Homo sapiens: one gene and its partners. The protein of the gene in region 3 purifies or fractionates together with the protein of the main gene of each other region. This does not show direct contact. Each region holds a gene or a part of one and is shown on either strand. Other genes may lie near its edges.

Region 1 (3,500 bases), on a different chromosome or scaffold from region 3:
TACACATGCTGAAGTATTTAGGAGGAAATGAGCTCATCTCTACAACTTATTCTGAAATACATTTAATAATATGAATTGCTGCATGGATAGAGAGATGGACAGATGGACAGGTATGTGACAAAACATGTGTGGTTAAATATTAATGGTATTCCATTATATGGATATGCCAGTTTGTTTATCCATTCACCTGTTGGTGGATACTTGGACTGTTTCCCATTTGGGGCTATTAAAAATAAAGCTGCTATGCACATCTGTGTGCAAATCTTTGTATGAACATATGCTTTCATTTCTCTTGGGTAAACATGTAGAAGCACAATGGCTTGATAACATGGTTGATGTATGTTTAACTTTTTAAGAAATTGCCAAACTGTTTTCCCAAGTTGTTTAACATTTTACATCCCCAGGAGACATATTAACAGAGTTCCAGTTTTTGCACATCCTCACCACCACTTGCTATGGTCAGCAATAAAAAGGAATAAATTATTGATTGTACTACCACATGGATGAATCTCAAAATAATTATGCTGAAATAAGCCAGACTGAAAGAATACAAACTGTACAATCCCATTTATCCAAGTCTAGAAAACTCAAGCTAATATGCAGTAACAGAAAGCAAATCAGCAAAAACCTGGGGACAAGAAGGGTATAAGGGACAAGGAGGGTTAGAAGATACGGTTTACAAAAAGGCACAAGGAAACTTCTAGGTATGACAGATATGTTCATTATCATGTGATGATTGTTACCTGCATGCACATATATGCTAAAACTTATCAAATTGTAGACTTTAACGTGTATTTTACTGCATGTTAATTATACGTCAATAAAGCTGTTAATACATAATATTAATGACAGAATCTAGATAATGGGTATATGGAGAGGCACTGTAAAATCTCCTAACACTTTTTATAATAAAATGTTTCATAGTCTTTAAAGTTTTATTAAAGTATCTTAGAACATAAATATAAAAATAATACATAAGGAATTAGAATTGGTCATTAACACCAGACTGTAAGAATCATTTGTTTGGCTCCCTAGTGTATTCTGGGCACAGAAGAATGACTCCTTAAAAATCGAAAACTGTATCCTAACTGAATCTTCATCTTTTGTACTGCTTCTGGTATCATGGCGGTATCCAGCTAAGTGGCCACTAAACACATGATTCTATTATAAAGGGAAAACTGGGAGATTAACATTTCAAAAACAGAATACGTATGTTAGTTAATAGACAAGAAATCTGAACTTCTAATGTTACATAAAGATGTCAGGCATTATCAAAAAAAAATTACAAATTTGTCCAAGTATTGTGATTTCGGAGAAAACAAAATAGAGACAAAGGAGGCTAACTTAAGAAGGGGCTATGAAGTACAGGTACTTCCTGTGTTACAAATGATAATTCTATCACACAAGCCACTTTTACTACTGCTTTTGTCTATTTAAAATTCTAATACTTTTCCCCTTAATGTTCTCTTAAAATGTACCCAACTGTGCATCAAGTCCCCAGTGTCATTTGTTTAAAAAAATATTTTCATGTCCTACTCCAGATAAATAATTTATAATCTCTGGGGGCAGGTTCTGTATTCATAATAAGCACCTATGGCTGATTCTGATGCAGCCTAGCTCTTAAAGAAAATATGTGAAATGGCCGGACGCAGTGGCTCACACCTGTAATCCCAGCACTTTGGGAGGCCAAGGCAGGTGGATCACTTGAGGTCAGGCGTTCGAGACCAGCCTGGTTGACGTGGTGAAATGCCGTCCCTACTAAAAATACAAAAATTAGCCATGCATGATGGTGGGCACCTTTAATCCCAGCTACTCGGGAGGCTGAGGCAGGAGACTCACTTGAGGCCGTGAGACAGAGGTTGCAGTGAGCCGAGATCGCGTCACTGCACTCCCACCCGGGTGACAGAACGAGACTCCGTCTCAAAAAGAAAAGAAAAAGAAAAAGAAAATTGCTGGAGAAAGTTGGGAAGATAAATTTCAGATGAGTCTATGAAATATTACCACCTCTCTAACTAGATGATATATGGGAAGGGAGAATTATAAATAGAAGTGTATAAAAAGTATACCTTACCAACATCAAAATTTGCCAAGAGTCAGTCCTGGAATGAAGCTCAATTCCTTTTTCATCCCCTGTAAGACAGAGTCTTCTAGCAGTGAGTCTACTTACTGTATTGAACCCAGTACAGTAGCACTCTTCTGCTGCATTATAGTTAAACAGGTTTTTGGAAAAGTCCTCATTCATATATAAGAATGCTTCCATGGGAAAAATGCATTCTGATTTCCAAAGAATCCATCTCAGCAACAAATTTTCAGAGCACCATCCATTATTAGCAATGACTGAATACTAATTGATACTATTATAGTAACATGCTAATATTGAAATTTGCTGGATTATTTCAGAAGCCTAGCAAAAGCACACATTTACAACTACCAATAGGTCCTTCACGTTAGACCATAAAATATTATCTTAAAATTTTCCTATGCAGCATCCAGTTTCTTTTTTTTTTTTTTTTTTTTTGAGGCAGGGTCTCGCTCTGTTGGCCAGGCTAGAGGGCAATGGTGTGATCTCAGCTCACTGCAACCTATGCCTCCCAGCTTCAAGTGATTCTCCTGCCTCAGTCTCCTGAGTAGCTGGGATTACAGGCGAGCGCCACAGTACCCAGCTAATTTTTGTATCTTATTTTTTTCGTAGAGATGAGGTTTCACCACATTGGCCAGGCTGGTCTGAAGTGATCCACCCTCCCCAGTCTCCCAAAGTGCTGGGATTACAGGCATGAGCCACTATGCCTGGCCACCTAGTTTCTATTACAGAAATTTTCAAACAATGTTTTTAAAAAATCCTCCAAATTTATCAAATTACTACTTTTGAAATTCTCAAAGAATATTTTAAAAAAATACTCCAGCTATTATTTAAAGTTTCATTTATCAAAACATAACCAATTTCTATAAATAAAACACTGACATGTTATTTTATTTTATTTTGAGACAGAGTCTCGCTGTCTGTTGCCTAGGTTGGAATGCAGTGGCATGATCAGAGCTCACTGTAATCTCAAACTCCTATGCTCAAGCAATCTTCCCGCCTCAGCCTTCCAAAGTGCTGGGATTACAGGAATGAGCACCACACCTGGACAATGACTTGTTATTTTTTAAATTATTTGTTAAAGACTAAAGTTAGAGGGATCACATTACCTGATTTCTAGACTAACTACAAAGACACAGTTATCAAGACAGTGTAGTATTGGTGAAATGATAGACACACAGATTGAGACAGACTAAAGCCACACAATATTAAGTCTACTGATTTTTTTTTTACGAAATGCAAAGATAATTCAATAGAGAAAGGATCCTCTTTCTTAGCAAGTGGTGCTAAACAATTGGATATTTGCATCCACATGCAAACAAATGAACCTCAACCTTCAACACATATCACACACCTTATACAAAAAGAAATCCAAAACCTAAAACTACAAAACTTCCTTAAGAAAACACAGGAGAACATC
Region 2 (3,745 bases), on a different chromosome or scaffold from region 3:
AAGGGAGCTTTTAAAACATAGATTACCCTGTCTCCCACTCCAGAACTGCTAGGGGTAAGGTCTGGGGAATCTGTATTTCACATGGTCCCCAAGTGATTGTAACCAGCAGATGACCTCATGGGCAGGGATTTCCTACATACGAGGCTCTGGCCTCTGTGTCTTGTCAGTCAGCATTTTTAAGTACAAAGGAACCTTTCCCTTCCCAACTACAAAATCTTACCTTTCTGTTTCCCCTCCTAGAAAACTGGATCAGAACAATGCTTCTCAAAGTGTAGTCCCCAAACAAGCCGCAAACAGCATCACCTACGATCTTATCAGAATACAAATTCTCCAGCCCCACCCCAGACCTACTAAGTTAGAAATTATGGGCACGGAGCAAATGCATTCATGTGTTTTAACAAGTCCTCCCAGTGATTCTGACACCTGCTAAAGTTTGAGAACCACTGGATTCGAAAATTTCACAATTTCAAGAAAGAAGTAATGAAGAAAGACACACCATGTAAGGTAGAACCAAGTTTATTAATGACAGCCTTTATTACAATCACTCTCAAGTGTAAAAAATAAAGGGTGATTAATTAATATTTAAAACTCACTCGGACTTGCTGTTTGGCCTTTCAGTGGATGTGCCAAAGGGCAGGGATCTTGCCTGATTCTGAATCAATTGGCCAGATGGAGTTCACTGGAGAATGAGGCAATCAACAAAAAAGACAAATGATGCCAACTGGAGAGAGCTCGTGTCTTCTCCATGTTGGAAGGACATTACAAAATGGCAACTGTGGTGGGGGCAGAGATGAAGTAAGACAACCTTACAGTCGGAGTAAGATGTGAATACCTCTACCTATACAGAGACAAAAACACACACATGCAGAGCCATACACACACCCAAACAGTGAACACAGTTTTGAAAATAATTTCCTTTTTGTCCTTTCTCTGAGCAGACTGACACATTCATCGGCCACCACCATGCACCATGGGGCTGAAATGGAAAACCTCGCTTAATTTCCACAAAGTATTCTAGCTGGCTGCCCAGTTATGTGCTGGCAAATCTGTCCGCACCGAAAAATGTGCCTGTGGTTTTCCCAGAGTTCCACAGACTGATATCTGCTCCCCAGGAGGGCAACATCCGGTGGACACCAGCTGGATTAAAATCTAGAGGGCAAAACTCGTCCCTCCCACCTAAAGTGGGGGCAGGAGCGGCAGCACCAGGAAGTGGTTTCCCACTTTGTGTTACAGAGTACTTGCCCCAGTTCAACGCATTCCCCTCCAAAGTATTTGTGCTTTGATACCATCCTGATGGTTAGTCTGCAATAAGAGAACTGAAGGAGCTATGGCCATGCACTATTTTCTTTTTTTAATAAAAGCAAACTAAAACTGGAGGAAGAAAAAGAAACCATTAGAAGCTTTTGACTGGGTCAATGTTGTTTCCAAATTGGGTTTAATTCCATTCAAAGAGAAAGAAGGGGAGGGTGCAGAAAAGGCCACTCAGATCGACTCTGGAAGAGATCATCAAGACCAGGGAAGCATTTGGATGGTACAGCTGGTCTCTTCCCAGCCAGACTGGGAGGACATGCCACAACCTCCCAAGGCTGTGAACCTAGGAAATAAGTGCTGACCAAATAACATATTTCAATGTTTGTAGAAAAGCTGGCAGGAAAGGGAGATGATGGATTCAGATTCACAGGTCATGCAGATTAAGACTTAATCAAAAATTAATGCTTGAGCTGAGTAAGAAAACACTAAAATTTAAGTGGAACTGTATCATAGCTTTCACCTTTGGAAGACGAAAAACAACAAACATACAAAACAAAATGACCCAGAATATTCCAGAGTTTCCAAAAATCCAACTGCTAATTTTGGCAGGGTGAGAAGAAGGGGATATTTAACTGATACCTCTTCATTAACCTCATTTTCTCCTTGAATTTCACTGATAAACAAAGCTCAGGTCTACTTAGAAAAACGATCAGTCCTGCTAAAATACAGCCTCATGACGTCTTCCAATGCCCTTGCTCGGTGCACATGAAATACACAACTTCTCTTATAAGGAGACTTTCCAGGATAGACCAAGTGTGCTCGCCCAAGTGACTTGCTGAATACCATCACAAAATCTGAACCCAAAGATGAGTTGTTTTCTTCTTCAGATGAGAGTTGCAAGTGTTTCCTAAAATGTACATGGAGGGATGCCCACAAACCACTGCCCTCCCAGGTGAGGGGCTGAGTCTTTGAGGAGATGCACTCCTTCAGGCCATGGAACAGAAAGAAGGTGGTCCGTCCAAGGTGTGGTGAAGAGCAAAGCTGCCTCTCCCAGCCCTCCAATTACGGAAGATGAGGACAAGAATGTATTTTCTGCACATTCAAGTACATCTGGGTCCCCTACCCTCCCTTTTTTTCTTTTTTGGTAAGCATCTAACTGTCCATAAATTCATGGCTACAGTAGAGATTCACGGCGCAACGACTTTCATACTGGTTATTTTTTTTTTTAATTCTGTCAGTGAGCAGCATTTCCCAGTTTTACACTCCCCTAATGGCAGCTCCATTAGGCGAGACTGCAGGCTGCATCTGTGATTAGGTCCATGCAGCTCGAAGATCAGTTCGGCACGCGGGAGGGTCCCGAAAGCTGGGTCTGTCCAGTGTCTTGCAGCAGCGGTTGCAGGGGGTCTACCAGCTCGCCCTGACAGCTTCGATATCGCTAACCAAATTCTGGGCCAGGCATATCCCAAATATCTGAGAAAGGAAGAAAATGTGAGTGAAACAGTGACACTTGTAACTTGTTTCCCTGGCCACTGTGTCCCATTTTTTTAAATCATTGATTTTTGAAATTTAAGATGTAATTCATATGTGGTAAAAAGCATCCTTGAAATGTGTATAATTCAGGGGCTTTTAGTATATTCACAAAGCTATGCAACTATCACCACTATCTAATCACAGAACATTTCATTACCCCAAAAAGAAACCCTGTACCTGTGAGCAGTCATTCCCATCCCACCATCCCTACAGACCTAGCAACCACTAATCTACTTCCTGCCTCTGTGGATTTGCCTCTTCTGGACATTTCATATCAAGGGAATCATATAATATGGGGCTTTTGTGGCTGTCTTTTTCATGTAGCAAAATATTTTCAAGGTTCATATACATGTGCTATTAATTTATTCCTTTTGATGGTTGAATGATATTCCATGGCATGGATATGCCCCATTTTGTTTATCTACTCCTCAGTTGATGTGTATTTGCATTGCTCTCACATTTTGGCAATTATGAATAATTCTGCTATGAACATGAGCATACAAGTTTTTGGGTAAACACTTTCTCAATTCTTTTGGGTACTCCTCTAGGAGTAGAATTGCTGACTCATATGGTAGCACTATATTTAACTTTTGAGAAACTGCTAAATTGTTTCCCAAAGAGGTTGCAACATTTTCATTTCCATTAGCAACATATGAGGGTTTCGTTTTCTCCACATCCTTGCCGATACTTGTTATTGTCTGTCTTTTTTATTCTAACCGCTTTAACGAGTATGAAATATGTGGCTTTGAATTGCATTTCCTTAATGACTACTGACGTTGGCATCTTTTCATGTGCTTATTAGCCATTTTTTTTTTTTTTTTTTGAGACGGAGTCTCGCTCTGTCGCCCAGGCCGGACTGCGGACTGCAGTGGCGCAATCTCGGCTCACTGCAAGCTCCGCTTCCCGGGTTCACGCCATTCTCCTGCCTCAGCCTCCCGAGTAGCTGGGACTACAGGCGCCCGCC
Region 3 (3,500 bases):
AGGTGTTGCTATTATCCTCTTCATTACCAAGGAGGACATGGAGGCACAGAGAGTTGGATAACTTGTGCAAAGACACACAGCCTGTAAGTAGTGGAGTTAGATTTAAACTCATTCTGACTCCAGAATCTGTGTTCTTTCTGTTGTTCCTGAGCTCCAAGAGCCCCAGGATTCCTGGCCAGAAAATAAGCTTCCCCCTGTCCCCACCCATCCTCTCACCTTCCTGAGCTGTAATTAGGCGTAGGAGGTGTGCAGGGGTCTGGGCGGATGGAAGGGAGGATCGGTCCCGTTTGGTTTCTTTCTCAGCACAGCTTGGTTTTAATGCAGCTTTTAGCTGCCTTATGATTACCTCACTCACATCCAGAACTGCCAGGAAGAAGGCGGCATCCCGGCCCCTGTTTCCTGGCCCTGAGAGCCTCCTCTCAGCCCTAGGAGATCCCCTTTGACCCCCAACTCTGTCTCAGCCTCCTGGCATGAACATGGTTCTCCGTAAGACACAGGAACAAAGACTGTGGGTGGAGTGGGGCCGTGGCTGTGCTTCTCCTCAGACATTTCCAGGAAAAGCGTGACACACAGCCCCCTCCATGCCCAACAGTCCCGTTCAACATGGGGGGCCATTCTCACCGGATCTCCTTCCCCACCCTGTTCTCCTTTTCCAGAACTCCCAGGGCCCCCCACCAACCTGGGCATTTCCAACATCGGCCCCCGCTCTGTGACCTTGCAGTTCAGGCCAGGCTACGATGGGAAAACCTCCATCTCCCGCTGGCTGGTGGAAGCCCAGGTAGGGCAGGCCTGGGGCCTGACCAGCAGCCCCCGCCAGGGCACCCCGTGCCCTTGAGTGCAAAATCTTATGTGTATTTCGGCCTGTGTGAATTTTCATGTGCAGCTCTCAATGGCCCATTATACTCCAAATGCTCACACTTGCCAATGTTGTCTCCAACTCCCCCTGCCCCTCACCTGTGTACATGGAAAAACACACACACACTACAGTCCCCTCCTGGGTCGGGGGGTGCCTAGAAAAATACCCAGTTGCTGGAATATAAAAATATCCGCCTTGGCTGTACCCTGGAATCATCAGGGGAGCGTTCAGAAGCGCCAACACCTGTGCCCCTACCCCAGAAACTCTGATTCTGATTTAGCTGATTTGAGGGGCAGCCTGGGTCTCTGGAAGTACCCGGGGTGTTCAAGAGAATCACCTGGGCTGCTTGTTAAAAGCACAGATTCCTGGGCAGCACTCGAGGGATTCTGTAAGTAGTGGAGTTAGATTTAAACTCATTCTGACTCCAGAATCCAGGAATATATTGATCACAAGCATCCTGAGAGATTCTAAGGCAGGAGGGTTGAGTCACACTTGCAGTCATGTTTAGGGGCCTGGAAAGATGGTAGCCCCATATGGTGCCCTCCAGATGAGCCCTGGGTTCTGAACCAACTTCTTCCCTGGCAGGGCTTGTACTGGGGCTCGGAGCACCCCGTGTGGGCCCTGTAGGCTGGACAGGCCTAAGATCCTGCCCTTTTCCAGGTAGGCGTGGTTGGGGAGGGAGAGGAGTGGTTGCTGATCCACCAGCTCTCCAATGAGCCCGATGCCCGCTCCATGGAGGTGCCCGACCTCAACCCCTTCACCTGCTACAGGTAATGAGACTGGCCCGGGGAGAAGGCAGCAGCCTCAGGGCTGGGGGTGGGTGGGGGCTATGGCCCAGACCAGGACAGGGTTGAGAGTTGGGTGAGCTGCCCTTACCATCTTGCTCATCTCTCCCCAACCCCAGCTTCCGCATGCGCCAGGTGAACATCGTGGGCACCAGCCCCCCCAGTCAGCCTTCTAGAAAGATCCAGACCCTGCAGGCACCCCCTGACATGGCCCCAGCCAATGTGTCTCTGCGCACAGCCAGTGAGACCAGCCTGTGGCTGCGCTGGATGGTAAGGCTCCCTCGAGGGCAGGGGTGGGACCTCTCCATGAGCTTCTGGTCATTGCCTCCTAGAAGGTGCACATCAGAATTCCTACAGCTCCTTTCTCCTCTCTTTCTGTTTTCTGATGAGATGCCTGATAATCAACATCTTAGCCCAACGAACAAATGCCCCCCCGCCCGCCGATGAGAGGAAGGAGCTCAAAAATACTGTTTACTGAGCATCGCCAAGTGGCAAGCATTTTAAATTTTCATCCCATTTGATTCTCCCAATAATCTTACAAAGGATACATGATCATCCCAATTTACAGCTAAGAAAACTGAGGCTCAGAGAGGTTAAGAACTTGCCCACAGCCACACAGCTCCCAAGCGGCGGGTCTGGGGTTCAAGTGCCACTGTGGCATTCAGAGAGTGTCCCCAGATCCGGGCTGTGTGTTGAGGGTCCTGACCGTGGGCCATCCTGCACGAGGTAGTGACAGTAACACACCGAGGCTTCCTCTCCTACCAGGCGCTGTTCTGACAACAAGCCTGTGACAGCAGAGTGATCCTGGTCCCCCTTTTGCAGATGAGGAAACCGGGGCAGAAGAGAGGTCAGATCACTCGCCCAAGTTCTCCCGTATCCTCCCACGTGCTTTCATGAACAGCAGGGCTGAGGTCCCAACCCGGGGAATCTTTACCCGCAAGTCCACAGCCCTAACCATCGGGCACACTGCCGTCTCATCCTCTGGAGAACAGGCCACTTCTCCCCACCAGGCCCTCTGGAACATCGTTTCCCAGCACGTGTCCCACAGAGCAGCAATCCCAGGAGGCGTGTGGAGCAAACAAGAATTCTTAGACAAATAAATGTGGGAACAGCACCACATACCACAGCTCCATAGAGAATCCAGGAACACTAGCATAGCAGGAGCCCTCTTGACCCTGCTTCCCCAGGCCCATCTGACCACACAAACCCTTTGTTTCCACGTAAGATCTCACTCATTGTGCAAAACACAACTTGCAAACACACCACACTGTGAAGTCATTATTGCCGTTCCTGTGCGCGGACAGCTTGATGCTAGCGGCCATGAAAGCGCTTGGCGCCGTCAGTCCTCGATAAATATGAGTTATTGATTGCAGTTCCCTTCCCAGAGTGGCTGGTGCCTGAGCAGAGCTGCAGAGCTGTCTCGGCCCACCTCAGTGCCCCGTGCACAGTGTGACTATACCCACCTCCTGCCTCTTTGCTCCCAGGCATCCCCACCCCAGGCTGGCTCCCTGCTTCCTTCCTGAATCTCACTTTAAGGTTTGCAGCTACTAAAAGGTTAGAGCCTGATGCGGAGGGCAGGGACTGCATGGGGGAATAGAAAGGCAGCTGCCATGTGGCACAGGGCCCTAGACACTTCTCAGGCCCACGCTTAATGGTGCGTGGTCCATTACCTTTCCTCAGCAGGTAAAGGAACTTGCACTTAAGCCCCATCTCCGGCTCTCAGGACCATCGATTGCTATCTTAATGGTCTTTGGTCGGCTTCACTAAGTGTCTGCAGGAGGGAGGAAGCGTGTAGTGAGCAGGGGAGGTTGGGGCCGAAGGTGAGGAGTGGGGTAAAGTGGGTCAGCCTAGGGTGAGCC

What was found. The genes of interacting proteins can lie anywhere in the genome.
Region 1: the proteins of SDK2 (region 3) and VPS13A purify together in Homo sapiens (affinity purification with mass spectrometry; one large-scale study listed by BioGRID and IntAct). This does not show direct contact.
Region 2: the proteins of SDK2 (region 3) and TSPAN5 purify together in Homo sapiens (co-immunoprecipitation; one large-scale study listed by IntAct). This does not show direct contact.

Annotation. Positions count from the first base shown.
Region 1 is NC_000009.12:77,180,534-77,184,033, reverse strand, and holds part of VPS13A (intermembrane lipid transfer protein VPS13A), read right to left. Parts: intron 1-3,500. UniProt on the Homo sapiens protein: Mediates the transfer of lipids between membranes at organelle contact sites. Binds phospholipids. Required for the formation or stabilization of ER-mitochondria contact sites which enable transfer of lipids between the ER and mitochondria.
Region 2 is NC_000004.12:98,469,867-98,473,611, forward strand, and holds the end of TSPAN5 (tetraspanin-5), read right to left. Parts: intron 2,722-3,745; coding exon 2,656-2,721; 3' UTR 501-2,655; downstream 1-500. UniProt on the Homo sapiens protein: Part of TspanC8 subgroup, composed of 6 members that interact with the transmembrane metalloprotease ADAM10.
Region 3 is NC_000017.11:73,396,446-73,399,945, reverse strand, and holds part of SDK2 (protein sidekick-2 precursor), read left to right. Parts: intron 1-656; coding exon 657-778; intron 779-1,516; coding exon 1,517-1,626; intron 1,627-1,760; coding exon 1,761-1,911; intron 1,912-2,463; coding exon of another isoform or gene 2,464-2,538; exon of another isoform or gene 2,539-2,903; intron 2,904-3,500.